4 linked regions of the Homo sapiens genome follow. The protein of the gene in region 3 interacts with the protein of the main gene of each other region in a pairwise test. Each region holds a gene or a part of one and is shown on either strand. Other genes may lie near its edges.

Region 1 (7,047 bases), on a different chromosome or scaffold from region 3:
AGCACAGATATTTGTTTAAGGAGCTCACTGCAATCAGAAACAATACAGAGGATCTGTTATAAATAATTTATGGTAAGCCCTGAAGTAGACTATTACGCAGCCGTGTAAAAGAAAGAGGTAGGGCCGGGCGTAATGGCTCACATCTGTAATCCCAGCACTTTGGGAAGCCAAGGCAGAGCCCACAAGTTCGGGACCAGCCTGGGCAACATGATGAAACCTCCGTCTCTACAAAAATTACAAAAATTAGCCAGGTGTGGTGGCACATGCCAGTAGTCCCAGCTACTCAGGAGGCTGAGGTGAGATGACTTGGCTGGAGGTTGCAGTGAGATTCTACCACTGCATTCCAGCCTGGGCAACAGAGCCAGACCTTGCTCAAAAAAAAAAAAAAAAAAAAAAAAAAAGGGTAGTTCTCTATGTGTTGATGAGCATGAAGAGATTACCAGGACTTACTTGAGGGAAAGAGCTAGTGACAGAATAACATGTAAAATAAATAATAAAAATCATATAAATATGCACTGGGAACTGTGGCTCATGCCTGTAATCCCAGCACTTTGGGAGGTTGAGGCGGGTAGATCACTTGAGGTAAGGAGTTCAAGACCAGCCTGGCCAACATGGTGAAACCCCATCTCTACTAAAAATACAAAAATTAGCCAGGTGTGGTGGCACATGCCTGTAGTCCAGCTATTCGGGAGGCTGAGGCATGAGAATCGCTTGAACCTGGGAGGTGAAGGTTGCAGTGGGCTGCAATCATGCCACTGCACTCCAACCTGGGCAACAGAGTGAGACTCTGTCTCAAAAAAAAAAAAATCATATAAATATGGCTGGGTGCACTGGCTCACACCTGTAATCCCAGCACTTTGGGAGGCTGGGGCGGGCAGATCACTCGAGGTTAGGAGTTCAAGACCAGCCTGGCCAACATGATGAAACCCTGTCTCTACTAAAAATACAAACATTAGCTGGGCACGGTGGCACACGCCTGTAATCCCAGCTACTTGGGAGGCTGAGACAGGAGAATCACTGGAATCCGGGAGGCGGAGGCTGCAGTGAGCTGAGATCATGCCATTGCACTCCAGCCTGGGCGACAGAGCGAGACTCTGTCTCAAAAAAAAAAAACAAAAAAAGAGTTCAAGACCAGCCTGGCCAACATGGTGAAATGGTGAAACCTTATCTCTACTAAAAATATAAAAATTAGCCAGGTGTGATGATGCACACCTGTAATCCCAGCTACTCAGGAGGCTGAGGTAGGAGAATCACTTGAACCCGGGAGGCGGATATTACAGCCAAGATCACGCCACTGCACTCCAGCCTGGGCAACAGAGTGAACGAGACTCCATCTCAAAAATAAAAATCATATAAATTTAATTAAGTGGTTCTATATAGGAAAGATAAACAAATAAACACCAAATACTTAATAGTGGATTTCTCAAAGATAGAGGACTAAGAGAGGCAGTTTCTGGATAACTGTATCTCTGCCCTGTTACAAGGCTAGTTGTGTTGAATGGTCGAATATGTGACCAGCAGCGAGTAACTTAACCTCTCTGAGCCTCCACATCCTCATCTATAAAGCTCAGATCAAATACTGTATCCTGAGATTGTTATGAGTATGATGAGGACTAACATGAGATCTTTTAATGCCTGGCACAGAGTCCATGTTTGATAAACAGTAGCTCTTATTACTATTATCGTTATGTATTATTTCTATAGCCAAATATACATACATATGTAAAGTTTATCTTTTTTCTTTTCTTTTTTTTTTTTTGAGACAGGGTCTCACTCTGTCACGCAGGCTGGAGTGCAGTGGTGCAATCACTGCAGCCTCAACCTCCTGGGCTCAAGCGATCCTCCCACCCCAGCCTCCTGAGTAGCTGGGACTATAGGAACCACCATGCCCAGCTAATTTTTTATTTTTCTTTTTGTAGAGATAGGGTCTCACTATATTGTCCAGGCTGGTCGTGAACTCCTGGGCTCAAGCGATCCTCCTATCTCAGCCTCCCAAAGTGGTGAGATTACAGGCCTGAGCCACCGCGCCTAGCCTTACTTTGTCATTTTAAAGTCACTTGGTGATAACTGCAAGGGAGAAGACCCCAAGTTTTAGTGAATCCTCCATCTAGCTTTGAATTCTCACTTCAAACAAGGAAATATTCCCAAGGAAATACAAGGAAATACTCACATAACCATGTTTCAGAATAATCAACCACCCCAAACCTGCCTGTTTTCCCAATACCTTCTCCAAGCTCTGCCCATCTCAGCTAAGGCCCCATGCTTCCCATTTTAACACCTCAGCCAGGGCATGGCTGAAAAGCTCCTGTCAGCTCCTATGAGATTTCCCGTCTGACTTAATAAAGCAGGCTCCCAGGCAGAGGGGTCATGAGGGGCCCAACAGAGAGGTGCGAGGTGGGTCCCCGGCTCTCCCCAGGTGCTTCCTACCCCCAGAAGCCTGGCAGGAACCCAGCCACTGGAGCTCAGAGAGCCAAGGCACATGCAGCCTGGAAGGCCCCAGTGCTTACCTGCAGGGTCAGGTAGAGCCCGTGGGGGCTTCCGGGGCCAGCCCAGTCCACGCTAAGGGCTCGGCACTGAGCTAGGGCTGGGCGAGCTGCACTTCGGGCACTGGAGTCCTCGTCACCGCAGACTGGGGTATCTTTTCCACGCCCTGTCCCAGGACAGAGAGATAGGTGAGACACTCCGACCACTGGCCAAAGACTGCTAGCCATGGACCACTGGCCAGGGCCGCAGCTGAGCTCAGCTTTCACACATCCCTGGCTGGTCCAGATGTGGCCAGGAGGGGCTCACACACCCAAAAAACGCCTGCCCTGCAGAGGGGAAGGCCTGGCTCGGGGCAGTGGCTACGCTCCTTCCTTACCAAAAGCCGCCCAAAGATTCTCTTCTGGAAGGGGCCCAATACCCCACCGGAGGCTCCCCTATCCCCACAGTGGCTTTTGGGGCAGGCATCTGCTCAGCAGGGAAGTGGAAGGAAGCCATTGCCAGCCAGCCTGCATGAAGCTTTGAGGACTTGCACAGGGGCTATGGCTTTATTACCCCGGCTGCCTCTAGGTGGCAATTTCTTCCCTGACTTCATTAAGACAAAATCCAAACCAGGTGGCCCAGCCTCCGTTGCCTCCCCAAGCGTATTCAGAACCAGCTAACGTGCATCCCCTTGTGCCTCTGACACACCGCCTCCCTCACCCATGGGAGAGAGGGCGGGCTGTGGCAGCAATGCCCCAGCCACCCACCTCCACCTGCAGGGCTGAACAGGGTGGGATGGGGGCCAGCCTCACGAGTCATGAGGCACACTGCAGAGCCACTACCCTGGGGCGTAACAATATCCCGAGTGCCAGCCACTGGGCCAAGTGCTTTTCAGGCCTTACACACATTCTGTTTTTTTGGGCTTTTTTGTTTTTTTTTTTTTTTTTTTTTTTTTTTGAGACAGGGCCTCTCTCTGTTGCCCAGGCTGGAGTGCAGTGGTGCGATCTTGGCTCACTGCAACCTCCACCTCCCGGGTTCAAGCAATTCTTATACCTCAGCCTCCCGAGTAGCTGGGATTACAGGTGCGCACCACCAGCCCAACTAATTTTTGTATTTTTAGCAGACACAGAGTTTCACCATGTTGGCCAGGCTGGTCTTGAACTCCTAACCTCAAGTGATCTGCCCGCCTTGGCCTCCCAAAGTGCTAGGATTACAGGCGTGAGCCACAGCACCCAGCCTTTACACACCTTCTTGGTCCTCAGTTTGCTTGTCAATAAAATGGGGACAACTTCACAGCCCTGTGATAAGGATCAAATGGGATGAAATACACGTGGTGCCCATGTAGTGCCAGGCACACAGAAAGGGCCCACAGTACAGGCCAATAGGACTACAGTAGCCATCAGCTCCTCAAAACTCCCCAGGGAGGTGGGGGGCATTCTCCCCACCTGACAGGCAAAGAACCGGAAGCCTGGAAGGGTTAACAATGTGCCCAGGGTCACAGGGAGCCAGGATTCAAATCCCATGTGCTAATCAACCCTCTGCCAGCCAATTCTCAGGGTGGCAATATGGGGGTTGGTCGGGGGACTCAGAGGGGCCTGGGGCAGCTGAGCTGGCTGAGGCCCAGTGGCAGGCACGGCGCTTGCATTTCACACACAGGATTTCATCTGACCTTTGTCTTAAATTTTTTAAGTGGATAAAAGTCTGTATGGTCATATAATCTTCATAATACCCAATTTTTTCCTTCAGGTTAGAAAGCTGAGATAACACAATATTTCAAAGACCTATATGCATGCACACACACACACAGACACACACGACTAGAAGGCACTACATAAAATGTTCAGTGACTAACTTGTGATTTTTATTTCCTTTTTGATATTTTTCTATGTGTTTTAAGTTTTCTAAGGGAAAATGCTTTTGTTTTACCGGAAAAGCAATACTCATTCATATTACATTTGTAATACTTAGGACAACCTTATGGGGTAGAGGCCATCCTCTGCCCCTTTCAGACAACTGGGCTACCTGGCCCAAAAGCCCAGGCTTTTCCCCAGGCCCCTGGGTCATCCCCAGCCTGGCTGTGCTGCTTGGGAGCAGCCAGCCCCAGACAACCATAGAAGCAGAGAGACCTCGGAAGGCATCAGTCCAGCTGCCACTGACAGCACAAATGTGGTGGGAGAGAGGGGTGAACAGGAGTTTGCTGTGTGCCCTCTCTGGGCCTCAGTTTCCCCTTCTGTGCACCAAGGGGCTTGGACCTGATGGCCCAGAGGGACTCTGCTAGCTCTCACAGGCTGGCAGTCTAGACCCTGTTCCTGTAGGTCACGAGGGACAGGGAGCAGACCCCTGAAGGCACCTTGCCTGGAGAGCCCTCTCTCCCCCACACTACCAGGGCGACCTGCCCACGCCTCGGGAGAGGGTCATGGACAGCTCCGCGGCCCCGCCAATCCAGTCCCGGCCCTGAATCAGAGAAGCCGCTCACTTCTTGACTTTCGCAGCACCGGGGGACATGACCCAGAAAGGCGAGCTGGCACTGACAGCTCCCCGGGGGGTACAGTGGGGGCCAAGACTCTGGGACCTCTGCCCACCTGCTGTCAGGGTCTCTACAGAAGCACCTGAAATGAGCACATGGACCCCAAGCCCCGCCAGGCCACGTTCCCGAGCAGCCTCGGTCCACTCCCAACGCCGTCCAGGGGCCAGCCCAGGCAGGATCAAGTGTCAGCGGCGCTTGGTGCCCAGGCAGCCACTTCACCTACCTTGTTTACCAGCCTGGGCAGAGACCGGAGCTAGCCCACACGCTCTTGGCCAAGGACGGCAGCCCGCAGAGCTCTGACCAGCTTGGCCAGAGGGAATGCAGCTGATTCCCCCTGCTCTGTGCCCGACCCGTGTTAAAGTTTAACCCGGCTTCCAGGTCTCCTCTTTTCCAGACAGGGGCGCAGGGAAGGAGCGCCCGGCGAGACTGACGCTCCGGCTCCACGCCCGCCTGGCTCTGGGCTGTCGGTTACCCTGTAATTACCTGACAGCTCTGACTGGGCTTAGGAACCGGTGAGAAACCTCAGTCTCATCTCTGGTATCTGGAGGAAGGAAGGGAAATAAAGAGGCATTTTAAAAATGCGGACTCACCAGTTCTCAACCTCCCCGGGCCGGTGTGTGGGAAAGGGCGGGCGGCCGGGCTGGCTGGGGCTGGGGCGGGGCGAGCCATCCCCGGCTCGGGCTCCGGGGCCCGGCCCACTCTCCACAGGCCCCGCAGCGAGGGCGTGGCTCCCAGGTTCCACGTCCTGCGAGAGGGGACCATGGCCTGGGGCTCAGCAGCCTCCTCGGGGCACCAGGCAGCCTGCGGAGAGAACAAGGGGAGATAAGCTTGAAGACCGTGGACCAGCACAACTGCACCTCGGGCAGAGCCAGCCATCTGGAAGGGTCTACGCCCCACCGGTCGCTGGTTACCCAGCGCAGCAGCTCCAACTGCACTGTCCCCCAAAGACCCTAGGGCTCGCAGGATGAAATGGGGCCTGCTGCCTTTTGGGGGTATTTGTTTCCGAATACGGAGGCTCCGAAGTGCGAAAGTTGCATATCAGCTGTGCCTGAGACCCCACACCTGAGCCCTTCCCAGCTGAGCCTGGAGCCTGAGGACAAGCCAGGTCCTAGCCCCACACAGAGGAGGCACCGCGAGTCAGCAGCATCTCCGTAAGTCTAATCCTTTTCCTCCAAGACATCTAATTTTCTAATTGCACTTAACCACATGCTTAACCCTTAGGCTTCAGGCTGCTCTGCCTAAGGCCTGTCAGCAGAGCAGTGAATGCTCTGAATATTAACATTTCACTGAGGAGGGACTCAAAAGGGCCCTGACTGTGGCCAATGACAAGTGAAGTCTATATACAGTAAGTTCTCATTCATGTATTCGACTAGCCTGCGCTCTGTGCCTAGCATGTGGCAGGCACCGTATGGGTGTTGAGATACAAAGATTCATTCAGTCTTCATTTAATAATGCCTACTGGGTGCCAGGCATCTGCCAGGGGTCCTTTTGGATCAGAAGAGATGAGGCCTGAAAACTCCCAGTCAGAAGGGAGATAAACACTTCAAAAAAACCCTCACAGTCTGAGCAGGCTACTGGAGGCGGCAGGTGCGAGCCAGGCACCAGGTGGTGTGGGGAATGGAGGGGGGCAGAGAGCATTGGTCAGGGATAGAAAGCTTCAGTCAGGGATAGGTCCCTCATGAACTGAACAAATGAACAGAGCTCAGGTATTCCCTGCAGAAGTCTTTATTGAGCACCTACTGTGTGCAAAGCAACCTTGAGGACATTTAAGGTGATCATGCTACAGTCCCAGACTCAGACAGTAATGTCATTTACAGAAGAAGCGAAGTCAGCTTGGAGAGGCAACATGGGGTTTTAAGATTGAGGTGGGGGTAACTGAAGGACTTCCTAGTGGAGCTTCCTGGGCTGTCGACTACTCTCCCCATCCGTCACTGCAGTGGCCACTTCCTGCCAGGAAGTGAAGATAGCTATTTGAAGGGTGTCCACCTCCCCTGACCCACTATGGGCCCACACACATTCATGTTTGCAGCCCCACTGCACCCAGTCTGCAGCTGCAC
Region 2 (7,047 bases), on a different chromosome or scaffold from region 3:
GTGCTTATAGGGCTTATGGGCTCTCAGGGATCATAAAAGAGGGCACATCTGCATGGTATACAGTCATAATTGCACCTGAATATGGTAATAAGAACAAGTGTGGTTAGGGACCCAGTTTATCCGTATTCCAAGCTGGAGTGAAGGGGAGGATCAGGGTGGTGGCCAGGAGAAGTAGGTAGTGTTTGCCCATCTCAGGGGTTGGGAAGGGATAACTGGAGAGGATTTGTTATAAGGGAGTCAGTGTGTCCAGAGTTTAAATCCCAGCTCTACCATTTAATAGCTACATTGTCTTGGCAAGAGGCTTGGCTTTCCTGAAACATTATTTTCTCATGGTCATAATAGGAATTACAGCATTACCTGTCTGCCATATAGGTGACATGAAGAACGTCACCTGGCTGATTTCATTTAATAGTAATAGCTACTTCATAGGTCTGTTGAAAGTTCAAATAAAATAATAAAAGTAAAAAATGCCTGGCATGGCTCCTGGAATGTTGAAGTTATTCAGTAAGTTGTAGGCATTCTTAGTATCATCCCAGCCAAGAGCCTGTGTATAGACTTTTAGAGGTGGACTGAAGGGGGCAGTGACTGATAGTGAGAAATGCTCTGCTGGAGTAGAAGAAATCGGATAAAAATTTTAGGACCAAGTGTCGGGAAGGAGGAGTTTGTGTGTTTGGCAGGGTGGTGGCCATGGGGGTGGAGGTCAGTCTGAGGAATTTTGATAAGGGAGTTCGCACAATCAAAACTTTCCTAGGAAAAAGTAGTGTCCGTGAGATGGAGGGAAGCATGGAGCTGGGATAGTAGGTGAGGATTCCAGGCTTCTCTGAAAAAGAAAATAAGGCATCAGAAGACTTGGCCCTAACTTCTTTTTTTTTTTTAAGGTTAAACTTACTTAGCCTTGTTGTCTGGAATACTGAAGACTTAACGGCATTTTCTCTTCTCATAAAAGTATGTATTAGGGGTCGTTGATTTATTAGGATCACTTGTTTATTTATTAGAGACCAGTTTAAAGAAAGCTTCGTGGAGGCAAGTATAAACTGTTGTGATTTCCATTTGTACTGCTTTCTTCAGTATTATCAAACTCAGTTATAAAAGGCAAAATAACTTTTAAAATGGGGGTATTGGACAAAGGGAGTTTCTGGAAGAGGGAAATGTTGAAAGGGGAAGCATTAAGAAGATTTTGGTTGATGACTGTTGTGGTTTGGTTGTCAGTAACCTACATTTTAATTTATGTAGCCAAAATAGTGTTAATTTTTAAATCAGCTTTTTCTGAGGCACAGTTTAATAAAATAACCCAATTTAAGCATAGAATTCATTGAGTTTTGACAAATTTATGCACCAACATAGCCACCACCTCAGTCAAGGTACAGAACTTTTGCATCACCCCAGCCAGCCAGTGTCCTCGTGCCACTTCTACTCCACGTCCCCCTCCCCAGCCAGACAGTGTCCTCGTGCTACTTCTACTCCACGTCCCCCACCCCAGCCAGCCAGTGTCCTCGTGCCACTTCTACTCCATGTCCCCCACCCCAGCCAGCCAGTGTCCTCGTGCCACTTCTACTCCACGTCCCCCTCCCCAGCCAGACAGTGTCCTCGTGCCACTTCTACTCCACGTCCCCCACCCCAGCCAGCCAGTGTCCTCGTGCCACTTCTACTCCACGTCCCCCTCCCCAGCCAGACAGTGTCCTCGTGCCACTTCTACTCCACGTCCCCCACCCCAGCCAGACAGTGTCCTCGTGCCACTTCTACCCCACGTCCCCCACCCCAGCCAGACAGTGTCCTCGTGCCACTTCTACTCCACGTCCCCCACCCCAGCCAGACAGTGTCCTCGTGCCACTTCTACTCCACGTCCCCCATCCCAGCCAGACAGTGTCCTCGTGCCACTTCTACTCCACGTCCCCCACCCCAGCCAGACAGTGTCCTCGTGCCACTTCTACTCCACGTCCCCCACCCCAGGAAGTCACTGGTTTGATTTCTGTCCCTACAGTATTGCCCTTTGTAGAACTTCATGTCAATGAAATCAAACAGTATATATTATGCCTGGCTTTTTTTGCTCAACGTAATGTTTTTCAGGTCTTTACATGATATTGTGTGTAGTAATAGTTTGTTCCTTTTTGTCTTAAGTAGTACACAGTTGAATATACCACCTTTTGTTCATTCACTTGTGACAGACATTTCAAGTTGTTTCCTGTTTTTAGCTATTATGAATAAAACTGCTCTGTACATTCATGTATGAGTCTTTTTGTGGATATATACTTTAATTTCTCTTGGGTAAATACCTAGGTCAAGTGTACATTTGACTTTGTAACAAACAGCTAAACTGTTTTCCAAAGTATATGTACCATTGTACATTCCCTCCTGCAGTATTTGAGAATTCCAGTCGCTCTACATGCTCTTCCATACTTGGTGTATCCATTTCCAAGAGCTGCTGTAATAAAGTGCCACAAATTGAGTGGCTCGAAACAATAGAAATTTATTGTCTCACAGTTTTGGAGGCCAGAAGTCTGAAATGAAGGCATTTGCAGGGCCTTGCTCTCTGAAACTGGTGGGGGAATCCTTCCTTTACTCTTCCTAGCTTCTAGCTTCTGGTGGTTTGCTGGCACTCTTTGGTGTTCCTTGGTTCATGGCTGCATCGCTCTAATCCTTACCTCCTTTGTCATCTGATGTTATCCTTATGTGTTCATGTCTTCAAATAGCCGTTTTTCTTATAAGGATACCAGTCATATTTGAGACAACCTGTTTTCAGATGAGGTCCTATTGCAAGGTACTAGAAGCTGGGACTTCAACATACCTTTTTTGGGGGACACAGTTCATAACACTAGGTATTATAAGCTTTTTAAATTTTAGTTATTTTCAAGGGTGGAAAATGCATCTTGTGGTTTTTTGGTTTGTTTTTTTTTTAACTTTTATTATGAAATAATTTCAGACTTTAAAAACTGCTGCAAGGCCGGGCACGGTGGCTCATGCCTGTAATCCCAGCACTTTGGGAGGCCACGGCAGGTGGATCACTTGAGGTCAGGAGTTCGAGACCAGCCTGGCCAACATGGTGAAACCCCGTCTCTACTAAAAATACAAAAAATGAACCGGGCGTGGTGGCACACACCTGTAATCCCAGCTACTCAGGAGGCTGAGGTGGGAGAATCGTTGGAACCCAGGAGGCGGAAGTTGCAGTGACGTGAGATCACTCCACTGCACTCCAGCCTGGGAGACAGACTGAGACAACAACAAATGCTGCAAAAATAAAACAATTTCTGGATAGTCTTCATCTAAATTAACATTTTGCCATTTTTCTCTTCCTGTATACACACACATGTTTGTGTATATATATTTCTGAACCATTTGAGAATAAATTACAGACATGCCCATTTCACTCTAAGTGTCCGTGTGTGCTTTCTATTATCATACCTAGCAAAAATACAGTTATCAAAATAAGGAAAACTTACATCGATACAATACTATTAGCCAAACTACAAACCTTACTTGGATTTTGCCACCTGTCCTACAACTGTCCTTTATCTGGTGCAGAATCCAATCCACATCACACATTGTATTTAGCTGTCGTATCTCCTTGGTCTCCTTTTATCTAGAAAAGTTCATTATTGATCTTCAATGACTTGGATACTTTTGAAGAGTACAGGCCAATTATTTCATAGAATGATCCTCAATGTGGGTTTGTTTGATGTTTGCTGATAATTTGATTCAGATTGTGATTAATTAAAATTTGAATGGCTGATACAGTCAGTGTTCAGAATTCAAAAATAAGCATTCACTTAAAATAAATCTTCTTCCTACTCTTGTCTCCAAGCTCCCTATTATCTCTTCTCATAAAAAGGTAATGATTCTCATTTCTTATGTAGCTTTCCAGAGATGACTACAAAAGCCCATAAAAGTATGTATTTTCCCAATTTTTAATCCAGTTGATAACAGATAATATTTACTCAGGAGTCTGCACCTGTTCTATTTTTAGCTATTTTGCATTTCACAATATATCTTGGAGACCTGTCCATATCAGTACATCGGGGCTTCTTTCTTTGATTATGTGGGCATATCATAGTTTAGTTAACCAGTCTGCCTTAAGGGACATTAGTCTAGACACTTGATAGCAGCTGATGACAGGCATTTTGTCACTTTTGTTGCTGCTTCTCTGAATTACTGATGAATCACTTGGAACTGTACAGTAGATGAGAAATGAGTAACTCAGATGTTGAGAAATAAAGTGTAATTGTCAACTAGATGTGTTTATAACCTGTAAATGGAATGCAATTACGAAGTACAGTAATAGACTTGGGACATATCAATGCAACATTAGAGCTGTTTTCCTTTTTTCATCTTTCTCCGTAGTTTCATCTTTCCCATATTGGCCAGTGATGGTAGTATGAATTGTCTAGGTGTTACTTTTATTTGCCTTTAAATTTAATATTTTTTTGAATATAAATATTGGGCATATAGACTAATCATATCTACTATCCCTTTTTAAAAATTTAAAGGCAATGAGAGAGAATTCCAAGTTTCCAACCCTCAGAAACAACTATGATGTACATTCTTCCAGCCTTTTAAAATACCTGTCTACACCCTTTGCCCATTTTTATATTGAGTTATTTACATATAAAAGAGGTCTTTCCTATAAAGTGGATAGTATTCCTTTGCTATACGTTGCCAGTATTCTGTCATGTTTCTTTTAAATTTGTTTATAATATATTTTGCTACAAAAAAGTTTTGAAGTTTTATGCAGTTAAATTTCCTTTCTCTTTACTTGGCTTTGGGATCATGCTATGAAAAGGAGCCTGGCATGGTGGCTCACGCCTGTAATCCCAACACTTTGGGAGGCCGAGGTGGGTGGATCACGAAGTCAAGAGATTGAGACCATCCTGGCCAATACGGTGAAACTCCGTCTCTACTAAAAATACAAAATTACAAAATACAAAAATACAAAAATTAGCTGGGCATGGTGGCACGTGCCTGTAGTCCCAGCTACTGGGGAGGCTGAGGCAGGAGAATCGGTTGAACCCGGGAGGTGAAGGTTGCCGTGAGCCAAGATTGTGCCACTGCACTCTAGCCCGGCAACAGAGTGAGACTCCATCTCCAAAAAAGAAAAAAGAAAAAAAAAAGAAAAGTTTTCTGTACCCCAAGATAATATAAATCTTTTTCTGTGTTTTCTATTAGTTTTATAATTTTAAATTTACATCCTTGTGCTATCTGGAATGTATTGTCTGTGATGTGAAGTAGGGATCTAACTTCATTTAACATGATGTGGTGAAGCATTTCATCCATCCATCCACTCATTAAACATATTTAGCGCTTCTCTGCCATGTGGTGTGCCGTGTTCTGGATACTGGGAGTGTTGCAGTGAGTAAGAGAGGCAAGATCTCCTTCTCTGAGCTCTTATTTTCCACAGGGGATGCAGACAATAAAGAGGAAATGTGGTTGAGGATAGTGTTAGGTGCTGTGATGAGGACGCAGCAGGGGAACATGGTAGAGTGTCACTCAGGGCTGTTTTAGCTCAGCAGAGGAGTGGCCCCTCTCAGGAGATGGCATTGGAGCTGATGTTATCTACTGAAATAATCTGCTCACTCTCCGTGGACTTGAAATGGAACCTTTAAAATATGCCAAATTGTCACATATATATGAAATATATATGAGAGTTTATATTATAATATAGTTTACATATATTTATATATGAGTTTATTTTTAAAATTTATATATATGTTTATTTTTCTGGATTCTATTCCATTGTTCTATTTCTGTTGTAGTACCACACTATTGTATTTGTTGTCTCAGAATTCATTTTGCTTTTTTTTTTTTTTTTTTTTTTGAGAGACAGAGTCTTGCTCTGTCTCCCAGGCTGGAGTGCAATGGCATGATTTTGGCTCACTGCAACCTCTGCCTGCCGGGTTCAAGGCATTCTCTTGCCTCAGCCTCCTCAGTAGCTGGGACTACAGGCACGTGCCACCACGCCTGGCTAACTTTTTGTATTTTTAGTAGAGACGGGGTTTCACCATGCTGGCAGGCTGGTCTCGAACTCCTGACCTCGTGATCTGCCTGCCTCAGCTTCCCAAAGTGCTGGGATTACAGGAGTGAGCCACTGCGCCCGGCCCATTTTGGTATTTCGTAAAGCAACTCTTCCCTCATTTTTCGTTTCAAAAGTTTCGTTACTGTTCTCGTATATTTATCCTTAATAGTCGAATTTTATTATGAAGTTCCAACAGTAATAGTAAAAAAGTAAAATTATGCAGTTCTGATTTGAATTTCAAAGTGTGTAAGTCAGTTTGAGGAAGATTGCCATCTTTACGATGTTTATTCTTCATATTAAGTAAAAAAATGATACTTTATTCTATTCAGATCTTTCATTATGGCCTTTAACTCTTTACAGACCAATCATGAAGATCTTGCATATTTCTCTTAAATGTATTCTTAGGTGTTTCATTTTCTGTTGCTGTTGTAATTGGAGTTTAAATATGATTGTGATTTTGTAAAGAAAAAATGTGGATTGCTCAGTATCATATCTGAAGACACTTTGCTGCTGCAGTGCCTAAAACTTCATCACTATCATATTTTACTTATAAATTATGCTTTCATCATTTATAATGTCCTTATTCTATTTGATATGCAGTTTTTTCAAACAATAACTGTATCAAAAAGCCTTTGTTTTTAGGTTTAAGAAAACCTCTGTATGAGTAAGATAAACCCATGAAGCTCCTTAAACACTATGAGGTATCCTGTACTGAATGTAGTGCTAGGGGGAAAATGACTCATACTAAATGGAAAGGAGGAAAGGAATAAAACATCTTAAGGAATTGATGACAAATGTATATTACTAAGTTCCATGTTCACTTTCTTTTTTTTTTTCTTTTTTCTTTTTTTTGGAGACAAGGCCTGGCTGAATTGCCCAGACTGGACTACAGTGGTGTGATCTCAGCCCACTGCAACCTCTGCCTCCTGAGCTCAAGCCATGTTCCCACCTCAGCCTCCCGAATAGCTGGGACCACAGGTGCACACTACCACGCCCAGCCAATTTTTGTCTTTTTTGTAGAGACAAGGTTTCGTCATGTTACC
Region 3 (3,679 bases):
AAAAGACCACATCTTTTCCAAGGGACATTTTTCCTGGAAAGCCCCTGGAGCTTAGGGGGCTCTCATCCTGTGAAGCGGGCTCTGGCCACTAGGGGGCAGGGCCATTAACTCAGCCTGGAGGGCGCCGGCAGGGCGGCTGGCATTCTGGAGGGACAGACAGAACAGGCCACCAGGCTCAGGCAGGCGAGGGAGGCAGGGGGACAGAATGGAAGACACCTGGGCTGGATGGAAGTCAGTGCCCTTGGGTGCTGGCATCCTGTCTTCCTGGCCACCGCTAGATCAGGCTTCTGAGCCTGTTGGCCATCGGGGCCAAACTGTCCCCATAGGTACCATGGTAGTCCCCGTGTAATCCCCAAGATGTCACCAGGCAGCATACAGGTAACAAGCCTGGAAGGTCCCAACAGCCCAGCTGCACATGCTCAGACACTCTGGGGCTCCCTGTTCAGTGGCACAAACTCCAGGACCCAGTGAGAGAAACAGGAACACATCAGGCAGAGCAGTATGGCTAAATCCATTTATTCCGAAATAAAAAGCAAAATAAACAGGAGTCGCATCACCAGGGCGCCACGACCCCATCCCCGCCTCCTTCCTCTGTCCTATGCTATCAATAAATAAGTTTCCCAGCCCCAAATAATTATTAGAACCTCCTCCCCATGTGCCAGCTCCAACCTCTGCTAGGTATGATACAGGGGGCGGCCCTACCCCTGGAATATACAAAATGTTACACAGATACAATATGTACACTGGGGAAGCAGGGCCACCCCAGCAGCCCGTGCCCTCGCCTGGTCTACAGTTAGCCCCACTGTCCTGCCTCAGCTGCCTCTCTGTGTAAGAAGATGGGAGCCCCCCTGAGGGAAAAATTGCTTTGGTGAGAGTAAGGAGGCCATGAGGCCTCTTCCAAAGAGGCCAATTATATGAGCCTCTGGCTATTAAATAACAATCATCATCATCCAGAAATTTAAGGAGTCAGCCCTGGCCAAGGTGGCTAAGGGTCTACACATTTGTCTCCCCCCATTAGACAGGGGTCTTATTTGCTACTGTAAGAGTAAAGGGATGACTGGGAAGGGGTGGCAGGCACATGATGGGGGCGGAGCCTCCGGCCCCACTTCTCCAGGCTTTGCTGACAGTGGCCTGCTTTTTAAAATTTTTATCCTGACTTTCTTTAATCCCATAACTTTTTTCATAATTTTTTTTTTTTTTGAGACAGAGTCTCACTCTGTCGCCCAGGCTGGAGTGCAATGGCGTGATCTCAGCCCACTGCAACCTCCACCTCCCAGGTTCAAGCGATTCTCCTGCCTCAGCCTCCCGAGTAGCTGGGATTACAGGCACGTGCCACCATGCCTGGCTAATTTTTGTATTTTTAGTAGAGACACAGTTTCACCATGTTGACCAGGCTGGTCTTGAACTCCCAACCTCAGCCTCCCAAAAGTGCTGGGATTACAGGCGTGAGCCACTGCACCTGGCCTTTTTTCATAACTTTTATACCATAAGTTACCCATAACCTTTTTTATCCCATAACTTTTTTTAATCCCATAACTTTTAATTTTTTTTTAATTTAGTGGCCAGCTTTTAGATGACAGTGATCTTCACCTCATCTGCACCTGTCTACCCCCGTTAGACAGGGGTCTATGCTTGCTACTGTAAGGGTAAAGGGTTGACTGAGAAGGGATGGTAGGGATATGGTGGGGGCAGGGTATCCAGCCCCACTTCTTCAGGCTTTGCTGACAGTAGCCGGCTTTTAGATGACAGTGATCTTCACCTCATCATTCTCGTCAGCCCGGTAAAAAAAAGGAATGCAGGGGTTGCTGCCCAAGCCTGGGCGCTCCCGGGGGTTCTGCATCTCACGAAGCAGCTGCATGATCTGCTGTGCAGTGGGGTTGTCACGGGGAGAACCCTCCCTGGCCTCTCCTTGGGCAGGCTCCACACTGCCGGCGAGGCTCACCTCGCAAAGATCTTTGGAGAGAGAGAGGCAGGGCTCTGAGTGCCACGCGAGCCCTCCCTTACTCCTGCCTGCCCACCCCTCCCGAGGGCTCTACTCACCACCCTGCTGGTTGGCAGCCCCAAGTTCCTGGGGGGCTGGGGCCCCTGAAGTGGGCTCATCAGCAGGGTTCTGGGCAGCTGCCAGGAATCTGCCATGCCACTCGTTGCGGTCGCCCACAAGCCGTAAGACCAGCTCCTGCAGCTCCAGCAGCTTCACCTGGAGGGAGGGGTGCTAAGCTGCCATGCCCATGCCCGTGCCCACCTCCACCCCCAGAGATGTTCCACACCCTACCTTCATCTCCTCCTTGTCTTGGGCCAGCCTGCTGATGTACTCCTCCTTCTCCCGGTGCCGCTCCTTCAGCACTGCCCTCTGGCTCTGGTACAGTGCAATGTACTCTCCTGCGGGAGGACAGGGCTCAGATGCTGGGTTCCCTCCGACCGCTGTGCAGCTCCTCCTGCCGTGCCCTGGCCTCCCACTCACCAATGGTGTCTGTCTCTCCAGAAAGCTGGATGCAGCGATGTTCCAGTTCCTCTACCCTCTCCTTCAGGTCTGCCTTCTCCTGCATGAGCTCCATAAAGCGGCTCTGGAACCAAAATAATGGAGTCATATATCGGCAGCGACCTGCCCCGCCCCCACCCTTCTTGACCCATGCCAGGAGAGACTCATTCACCTGCAGCTTCTCCATGGCCCCCTGCAGGGCCCGGTGGGTCTCCCCACACACAGAATCACCCCCGGTCCCTGGGGCTGGGGCTGCTGCCTCAGGCTCCTTCTGGGCCGAGGCCAGCAGGTGAGCCAGGCGCCGGCAGCGCACCCTTTGCTCCTTCAGCTGCCCACGTAGCCTTGCCTGCTCCTCCTCGGCACTGGCTACAGCTGAGTTGAAAAATGCCACCTGCAGGCAAGAGGGGTGCATTCTTGTAGGAGGATATATAGGATGAACAGGGCAGGGAGGTAGAGAGCAGCCCTTCCCTTGGGGCCTCAGAGGGTGCACTTGTTGGTCCCAAGTGAAATGGTGTCTCACCACTGGCTCCCAGGAAAGGGGTGAGGGTCCGAAGAAATCAGAAGGCCGGGAAACCAAGAGCAGAAGGGGGTCTGGGAGGGACCACAGAGGGAGGCAGCAAAGGTTGGGGAGGGGGAGTCAGCCTCACCATGGCTTCCCGGCTCTCCAGGTCCTCCGGGATGCTTGGCATGGGCTGAGGTACTGCCACCGCCTCCTCCTCCTCCTCCTCCTCATCCTCCTCCTCCTCCCGGTCCAGTCCATCTCCTATGGGGGTGGCCAGAGGGGTCATCAGACAACCCAACAAGGGTACAGTGGGCCCACCTCTGCCCCCACCCTCACTGTGTAACCCTGGGCCAGCCCCTCCCCAGAGGGAAATAAGCATCTGTTCTTTATTTTTATTTTATTCTTTTTTAAGAGCCAAGGGCTCGCTATGCTGCCCAGGTGCAGTCCCACTACCGATCAGCATGGGAGTTCTGACCTGCTTCATTTCTGACCTGGGCCAGTTCACCCATCCTTAGGTAAGCTGGTAGTGCCCTGCTCCCAGGAAGTCACCATATTGATGCCGAACTTAGTGTGGACACCCAGTTGGCATAATGACCAGCTGTTCTAAAGGTCTCTTCCAACTCCTCAATTCTACGCTGCTAACAGTCCCCCCTTCTTCCTGGGGCTCTCTCCTCTTCCTGTGAGCAGGTTCCCGTACC
Region 4 (7,047 bases), on a different chromosome or scaffold from region 3:
AGGCAGGCAGGGGGACACCAGGGCCCAGCAGTCTACCCACCCACCCTCCCAGGGAAACCCCTCGGGGCTGGGGCAGAACCCAGGATGAATGAGTGCAGGCGAGCACCCAGGTGTGTTAGTGTGTCCTTGGTGCTGGGTCCACTGCATTTGAGAGGCCCATGAGTAACTACGTACATGGCTTGTGTGAGCCTATGGGTGTGGGAGTGGTGCCATCTGTGAGCTGCAGGGTGTTGGCATGGCTGAGTGTGTGTTTCCCTAGGTGTTAGTGTAACTCTGTGAGACGCCATGTGTTAGAATGACTGTCTGAGATTGTGGGTGTTGGGAGATGCTCTGCGTACATCTCTGACTGTTGCTACAACTGTGAGTTCAGATCTCCAGGTTGGTATGACTGAGTCTCCGGGTGTTGGCACATCCGGATGCATGTGTCTGCATGAGTCTCTGGAGAGTGGTGTGATGCTTGAGGGGACCCTGGGTGCAGAAATGACTGAGGCCGGGCGCAGTGGCTCACACCTATAATCCCAGCACTTTGGGAGGCCGAGGCAGGCGGATTGCTTGAAGTCAGGAGTTAAATACCACCCTGGCCAACATGGCAAAATCCCGTCTCTACTAAAAATGCAAAAATTAGCCAGGCGTGGTGGCTCATGCCTATAATCCCAGCTACTTGGGAGGCTGGAGCAGGAAAATCACTTGAACCTGGGAGGTGGAGGTTGCAGTGAGCCGAGATCGTGCTATTGCACTTCAGCCTGGGTGACAAGAGCAAAACTCTGTCCTTCCCCACCAAAAAAAATTCAAGCTGCTGAGTGAGGTGGCTCACACCTGTAATCCCAGCATTCTGGGAGGCACATCACCTGAGGTGGGTGGATCAGTTGAGGTCAGGAGTTTGAGACCAGCCTGGCCAACATGGTGAAATCCCATCTCTACTAAAAATACAAACATTAGCCGGGCGTGGTGGTGCAAGCCTATAGTCCCAGCTACTCAGGAGGCTGAGGCAGGAGAATCACTTGAACCTGGGAGGTGGAGGTTGCAGTGAGCTGAGATTGCACCACTGCTCTCCAGCCTGGGTGATGGAGCAAGACTCCATCTCAAAAAGAAAAAAAATGTTAAAACCAATAAAAATGTTTTAAATTAAAAAACAGGCTGGGTGCAATGGCTCACGCCTGTATTCCCAGCATTTGGGAGGCCAAAGCAGGAGGATCACTTGAAGCCAGGAGTTCTAGCCAAGCCCTGGCGGCATACCAAGACCCTTTCTCTACAAAAAAAAAAAAAAAAAAAAAAATTAAATTAGCCAGGCATGGTGGTGTATGCCTTTAGTCCCAGCTACTTGGAAGGCTGAGGTGGGAGGATTGTTTGAGCCCAGGAAATTGAGGCTATAGTGAGCTTTGATCACACCACTGTACTCCAGCCTGGGTGACAAGGCAAGATCCTGTCTCCAAACAAAAACAAAAATAAACAGTCTTTGGTTATCATCCATGTAACTGTGGGAGTTTCTGGGTATTCGTGTGACAGTGTGCACATCCTTGAGTGTTGCCTGGGGTGTTGGCGTGGCTGTGTCTGGAGGTATTCGTGTGACAGTATGTGCACCCTTGGGTGTTGCCTGGGTGTTGGTGTGGCTGTTTTTTTAGGTGTTTGTGTGACTGCATGCACATCCTTGAATGTTGCCTGGGTGTTGGCGTGGCTGTGTCTAGAGGTATTCATGTGACAGCATGCACGGTCTTGAGTGTTACCGGGTGCTGGTGTGGCTGTATGCACCTCTCTGGGTGTTGGTGGCTACGGGGGTCATGGCATGCATCTCCCTGGGGGTCCGTGGAGATGGGTTAACCTGGCTCTGGAGACCATGGGTGAGCCAGTGAGCAGTGGAATCCCTGGAGTCCCGCATCCCCAGAGGCATCCCAGCTCACCGTGGGTGGCCGCCGGGTCGGGAAGCACCACGTGGGCGTGCAGCTCCTGCAGCTGCTGGTGCAGCAGGTCGAGGCGGCGCGAGGAGCCCCGCAGCAGCAGCTCTACGGGGCCCAGGCTGCGGCCCAGGTCAGTGGTGGCCCGCCGCAGGTTCTCAGCACCCTCCTTCAGCTTCAGCTCCTTGCGGATTTCCCGCCGCAGCCGCTCCCGCTCCAGCTCCAGCTGCTGCTGTACCCCGGGGGCCGCCAGGTCTGCCCCGGCCAGGCCCAGCTGCTCTAGCAGGGACCAGCTGCGAGGCTCACTCTGCGGAGGACAGAACAGGGTCAGTGGAGCTAGGAGAACTCCAGGTGCAGACCACATGCAGCCAGCCTGGCCCAGCCTCTGCCCTGGACTGGGGCTCCCAAGACAGGGCCTGCTCTACCTCCTCTGACTCCCAAAACTGGAAGGTGACGAGGCCTTGCCACTGCTTCCTGACCTCCCCAAACTGGGAGGTCTCAAGAGCAGGGCCTTGTCACCCCCACCACCACAGCGTCCCCCACATTAAGGGGGTCTCAAGAATAAGATCTGTCTCCCTTCTGCTGCCTCCCCCAAACTAGAGGGTCCCAAGGGAAGATTCCTTCTTTTCTCTGCTGCTCCCCGAAACTAAGAGGGCCCAAGGGCAGGCCCTGTCTTCTCTCTGCTGTACCCCTAAAACTACAGGGTCCTGAGGACAGGCCCCATCTTCCCTCACTTGTACCCTGAAACTATGGCATCCCGAGGGCAGGCCTCATCTTTCCTTGGCTACACCCCCAAAACTAGGGTATCCCAAGGGCAGGCCAAGTCTTCTCTCTGCTGTACCCCCAAACTATGGGGTCTTGAAGACCCTCATCTGCTCTTCTCCTATGTTCAACAACTGGGACCCTAAAGAACAGAGCCCGGTCTCCTTCCTTCTGTCTCTCCCCAATCTGGGAGCCCCGAAGGGCACTGGATACTCTCATCCTCCAGAGAGAGAACTCTGAGGCCAGTGCCCCATCTCCTCTCCTTGTTCCCAAACTGAGAAGTACCCGGGGAAGGACTACTGGCCTGTGCCACTTGGGGCCCCCTTCTGCCTGCCCCCACAGGGACCCTGGACCCCACCTCCAGCTCCTGCTCCGAGGGGTTATTGGCCTCCGCCATCCTGGGTCCGGGCTGAGGGCCCCGCCCTCTTCCTGAACCTCAGCCCCACCAGGGCCTCTCGGCTGCCACTTCCTCTTTCCTGTCAACTCCCAGCACCCCTCGCGCGGGGCCAACTCCAGGGCATCTAAGGGACCTCCTGTTCCTCTAGATGAAACCCAGGGACAGTCCTTGCTCCCTGTCCCTAGAGAATGTCCAAGGTGCAGGCAGTTTGTACATTCACACACTCATGGTGTATCCATGAGGGGACGCAGGCTCCGAGGGCTGACTTGAGTGTGCACTAACTTTCAAATACATATGTGGATATGCACAGAACACAGGCTCACAAATGTTTGCACGCTTTCTTTTTCTTTCCTTTTTTTTTTTTTTTTTTTTTTTTTGAGACAGAGTCTCCCTTTGTGTTGCCCAGGCTGGAGTGCACTGGTGTGATCTTGGCTCACTGCAACCTCCGCCTCCCAGGTTCAAGCAATTCTCTTGCCTCAGCCTCCCAAGTAGCTGGGATTACAGGCATGTGCCGCCACGCCCAGCTAATTTTTGTATTTTTAGTAGAGACAGGGTTTCACCATGTTGGCCAGGCTGGTCTCGAACTCCTGACCTCAGGTGATCCGCCCCCCTCAGCCTCCCAAAGTGCTGGGATTACTGGACGTGAGCTACCGCGCCTGGCCTGTGTTTGCACAGTTATGGCTGCAGGTGTGTGCCTGCAACACAGGCTCACATGTGTGCACACTCCCATGCCTGTGTGTGTGGATGAAACAAAGATCCACACACAGGTGCACACTTCTACACCTGCAGGTGTGTGCCTGGAAAATGGGCTCACAGTGTACCCATTCCCATGCCTACCACATATGCACTTATTTGCAAACACATACAAGTGCTTATGAGCTTCCCTCTAGAACCCATACAAGACACACTCCCACCTGCCCGAGAGGGCATGGCCCACATGCTCATGCGTGTGCACATGCTCACACACATATGCACGCTCCCCGAGGCCCCTGCAGCACATCCATGCTCCCACAGACCTCCAGCCCTGCGACTACCTGCATATGTCCCTCCAGACTCTCCCAGCCACCCCTTGTCCCCGGCTTCCCCTTCAGGGTCAGAACAGCCACTTCTTCAGAGGTGAGGCCCCTTTCCTGCAGACGGGCCCTCCCAACTTCCTGCTTCCTCTCAGTCCAGTCGCCAACTGTTATTGACCATAGCTGAGAGGCCCGGGGTCCCAGCCAGCCCAGTGGCACCTCCCTCAGGCCAACACAATTAGGGGACAGCACTGGGGGACTGGGATAAGAATTTCCAAAACCAGGCCGGGCACGGTGCCTCACGCCTATAATCCCAGCATTTTGGGAGGCCGAGGTGGGTGGATCACCTGAGGTCGGGAGGTCGAGACCAGCCTGACCAACATGGAGAAACCCCGTCTCTACTGAAAAAAAAAAAAAAATACAAAATTAGTCGGGTTTGGTGGTGCATGCCTATAATCCCAGCTACTTGGGAGGCTGAAGCAGAATCACTTGAACCCAGGAGGCAGAGGTCGAGGTGAGCCAAGATCGTGCCATTGCACGCCAGAGCGAAACTCCGTCTCAAAAAAAAAAAGAATTTCCAATTTCCAAAATCACGCCGGGCGTGGTGGCTCACATCTGTAATCCCAGCACTTTGGGAGGATGAGCGAGGCAGATCACGTGAGGTCAGGAGTTCAAGACCAGCCTGGCCAACATGATGAAACCCCGTCTCTACTAAAAATATGAAAATTAGCCAGGCATGGTGGCACGTGCTTGTAATCCCAGCTGCTTGGGAGGCTAAGCATGAGAATCGCTTGAACCCAGGAGGTGGAGATTGCAGTGAGTCGAGATCACACCACTGCACTCCAGCCTGGGCGACAGAGTGAGACTCTATCTCAAAAAAAAAAAAAAAAAAAAAGAATGCCCCAAATCAGCAGCCTACAAAACCACTTGCTAAGCACACAGTAACATTCAAGAACAACTTATGATGGCATTACTTCCTGATAAGCTCATCATAAGTTGCAAATATCATAAGTCAAAAATGCATTTAATATATCTTACCTACCAAACATCATAGCTCACCCTGGCCTACCTTAAATGTGCTCAGAACACTTACCCAAGCCTATAGTTGGGCAAAAACGTCTAACACAAAGCTATTTTACAGTAAAGTTGAATATCTCATGTAACTTTTTTTCTTTTTTTTGAGACAGGGTCTTACTCTGTTGCCCAGGCTGGAGTGCAGTGGTGTGATCATGGCTCCCTGCAGTGTCTACCTCCTGGGCTCAAACAGTCCTCCCAGCTCAGCCTCCCGAGCAGCTGGGACTACAGGCATACGCCACCACACCTGGCTAATTTTTGTATTTTTCATAGACATGGGGTCTCACTATGTTGCCCAGGCTGATCTCGAACTCTTGGCCTCAAGTAATCCTCCTGCCTCGGCCTCCAAAAGTGCTGGGATTACAGGTGTGAGTCACTGCCCCGTGGCCAGGGCCTTGATTTAAAACAAGAGCACCCAGATTCCAAATGCTGGCTAGGAAATGGCCCCCTGGGGTTATCTCCTTCAGCTGGGAGCATCCATTTCACAGACAAGGAATGTTATCCTTGGCTCGTGACTGATCTCAAGCGCAGCTGCCCCCAGGGAGGAATGCCACAGACCAAGTGTATCACTCCCACCATCTTCCCAACCCTCACTACAAATCTTGAGCAGCTGCCAAGAACTCCCCACTTCACAGGTGAGGAAACTGAGGCTCAAGGAAGTCACAGTAGTATGTTTTGTTCGTTGGTTTGAGACAGAGTCTTGCTCTTTCGCCTAGGCTGGAGTGCAGTGGTGCAATCTCGGCTCACTGCAATCTCCACCTTCCGGGTTCAAGCAATTCCCCTGCCTCAGCCTCCTGAGTAGTTGGGACTACAGGCACGTGCCACTGCGCCTAGCTAATGTTTTGTATTTTTAGTAGAGACGGGGTTTCACATGTTGGCCAGGCTGGTCTCAAACTCCTGACTTCAAGCAATCAGCCAGCCTCGGCCTCCCAAAGTTCTGGGATTACAAGTGTGAGGCACTGTGCCTGGCCAGTAACAGTTTTCCATTGAGGGGAGATTTTCTCCCCATACCCGGGGACATGCGGCAACATCCGGAGACATTTTTGGTTGTCCTGACTGTGGGTAAGGAGGTGACTTCTATCAGGGTGAGGCCAGGGATGCCACTCAACGCCCTGCAGTGCACAGGACAGCCTCTACTGCAAAGAATGACCCAGCCCTGAATGTCAGTAGTGCTAAGGCTGAGAAGCCTACGGTTAAGGGTCATAGATTTGGCCAGGTGTGGTGGTTCACGTCTGTAATCCCAGCGCTTTGGGAGGCTGAGGCAGGAGCAGTGCTTGAGGTCAGGAATTGGAGATAAGTCTGGGCAACACAGCAAGACCTACAAAAATCTCTACAAAAAATAAAAAAGTATTGGCCAGGTGTGGTGGCTCTCTCTGCCTGTGATCCTAGCACTTTAGGAGGCCAAGGCCGGAGGACTGCTTGAGCTCAGGAGTTCGAGACCAGCCTGGGCAATAACGGTGAGACCCCATCTCTACAAAAAATGTAAGAATTAGCCAGGTGTGATGGCATGTGCCTGCAGTCTCAACTACTTGGGAGCCTGAGGTGGGAAGCTGGCTTGAGCCCAGGAGGCAGAGGTTCCAGTGAGCCGAGATCACACCATCACACTCCAGCCTGGCCAACAGAGCCAGGCTTTGTCTCAAAAAAGAAAAAAAGAGGCCAGGCGCGGTGGCTCATGCCTATAATCCCACCACTTTGGGAGGCCGAGGCAGGCAGATCACGAGGTCAGGAGATCTAGACCATCCTGGCTAACAAGGTGAAACCCTGTCTCTACTAAAAACACAAAAAAATCAGCCGGGCATGGTGGCGGGCGTTTGTAGTCCCAGCTACTTGGGAGGCTGAGGCAGGAGAATGGCGTGAACCCAGGAGGCAGAATTTGCAGTAAGCCGAGATCAAGCCACTGCACTCTAGC

The links.
Region 1: the proteins of GOLGA2 (region 3) and KIFC3 interact in binary tests that used the Homo sapiens proteins (3 or more experiments, as listed by UniProt).
Region 2: the proteins of GOLGA2 (region 3) and ZFP2 interact in binary tests that used the Homo sapiens proteins (3 or more experiments, as listed by UniProt).
Region 4: the proteins of GOLGA2 (region 3) and PKN1 interact in binary tests that used the Homo sapiens proteins (3 or more experiments, as listed by UniProt).

Annotation. Positions count from the first base shown.
Region 1 is NC_000016.10:57,792,492-57,799,538, forward strand, and holds part of KIFC3 (kinesin-like protein KIFC3), read right to left. Parts: intron 5,792-7,047; coding exon of another isoform or gene 5,753-5,791; coding exon 5,581-5,752; exon of another isoform or gene 5,214-5,580; intron 2,651-5,213; coding exon 2,508-2,650; intron 1-2,507. UniProt on the Homo sapiens protein: Minus-end microtubule-dependent motor protein. Involved in apically targeted transport. Required for zonula adherens maintenance.
Region 2 is NC_000005.10:178,898,913-178,905,959, forward strand, and holds part of ZFP2 (zinc finger protein ZFP2), read left to right. Parts: intron 1-7,047. UniProt on the Homo sapiens protein: Probable transcription factor involved in neuronal differentiation and/or phenotypic maintenance.
Region 3 is NC_000009.12:128,255,329-128,259,007, forward strand, and holds the end of GOLGA2 (golgin subfamily A member 2), read right to left. Parts: coding exon 3,679-3,679; intron 3,243-3,678; coding exon 3,127-3,242; intron 2,871-3,126; coding exon 2,652-2,870; intron 2,565-2,651; coding exon 2,462-2,564; intron 2,380-2,461; coding exon 2,273-2,379; intron 2,198-2,272; coding exon 2,041-2,197; intron 1,954-2,040; coding exon 1,739-1,953; 3' UTR 501-1,738; downstream 1-500. UniProt on the Homo sapiens protein: Peripheral membrane component of the cis-Golgi stack that acts as a membrane skeleton that maintains the structure of the Golgi apparatus, and as a vesicle thether that facilitates vesicle fusion to the Golgi membrane.
Region 4 is NC_000019.10:14,436,295-14,443,341, reverse strand, and holds part of PKN1 (serine/threonine-protein kinase N1), read right to left. Parts: intron 3,066-7,047; exon of another isoform or gene 3,052-3,065; coding exon of another isoform or gene 3,013-3,051; intron 2,200-3,012; coding exon 1,899-2,199; intron 1-1,898. UniProt on the Homo sapiens protein: PKC-related serine/threonine-protein kinase involved in various processes such as regulation of the intermediate filaments of the actin cytoskeleton, cell migration, tumor cell invasion and transcription regulation.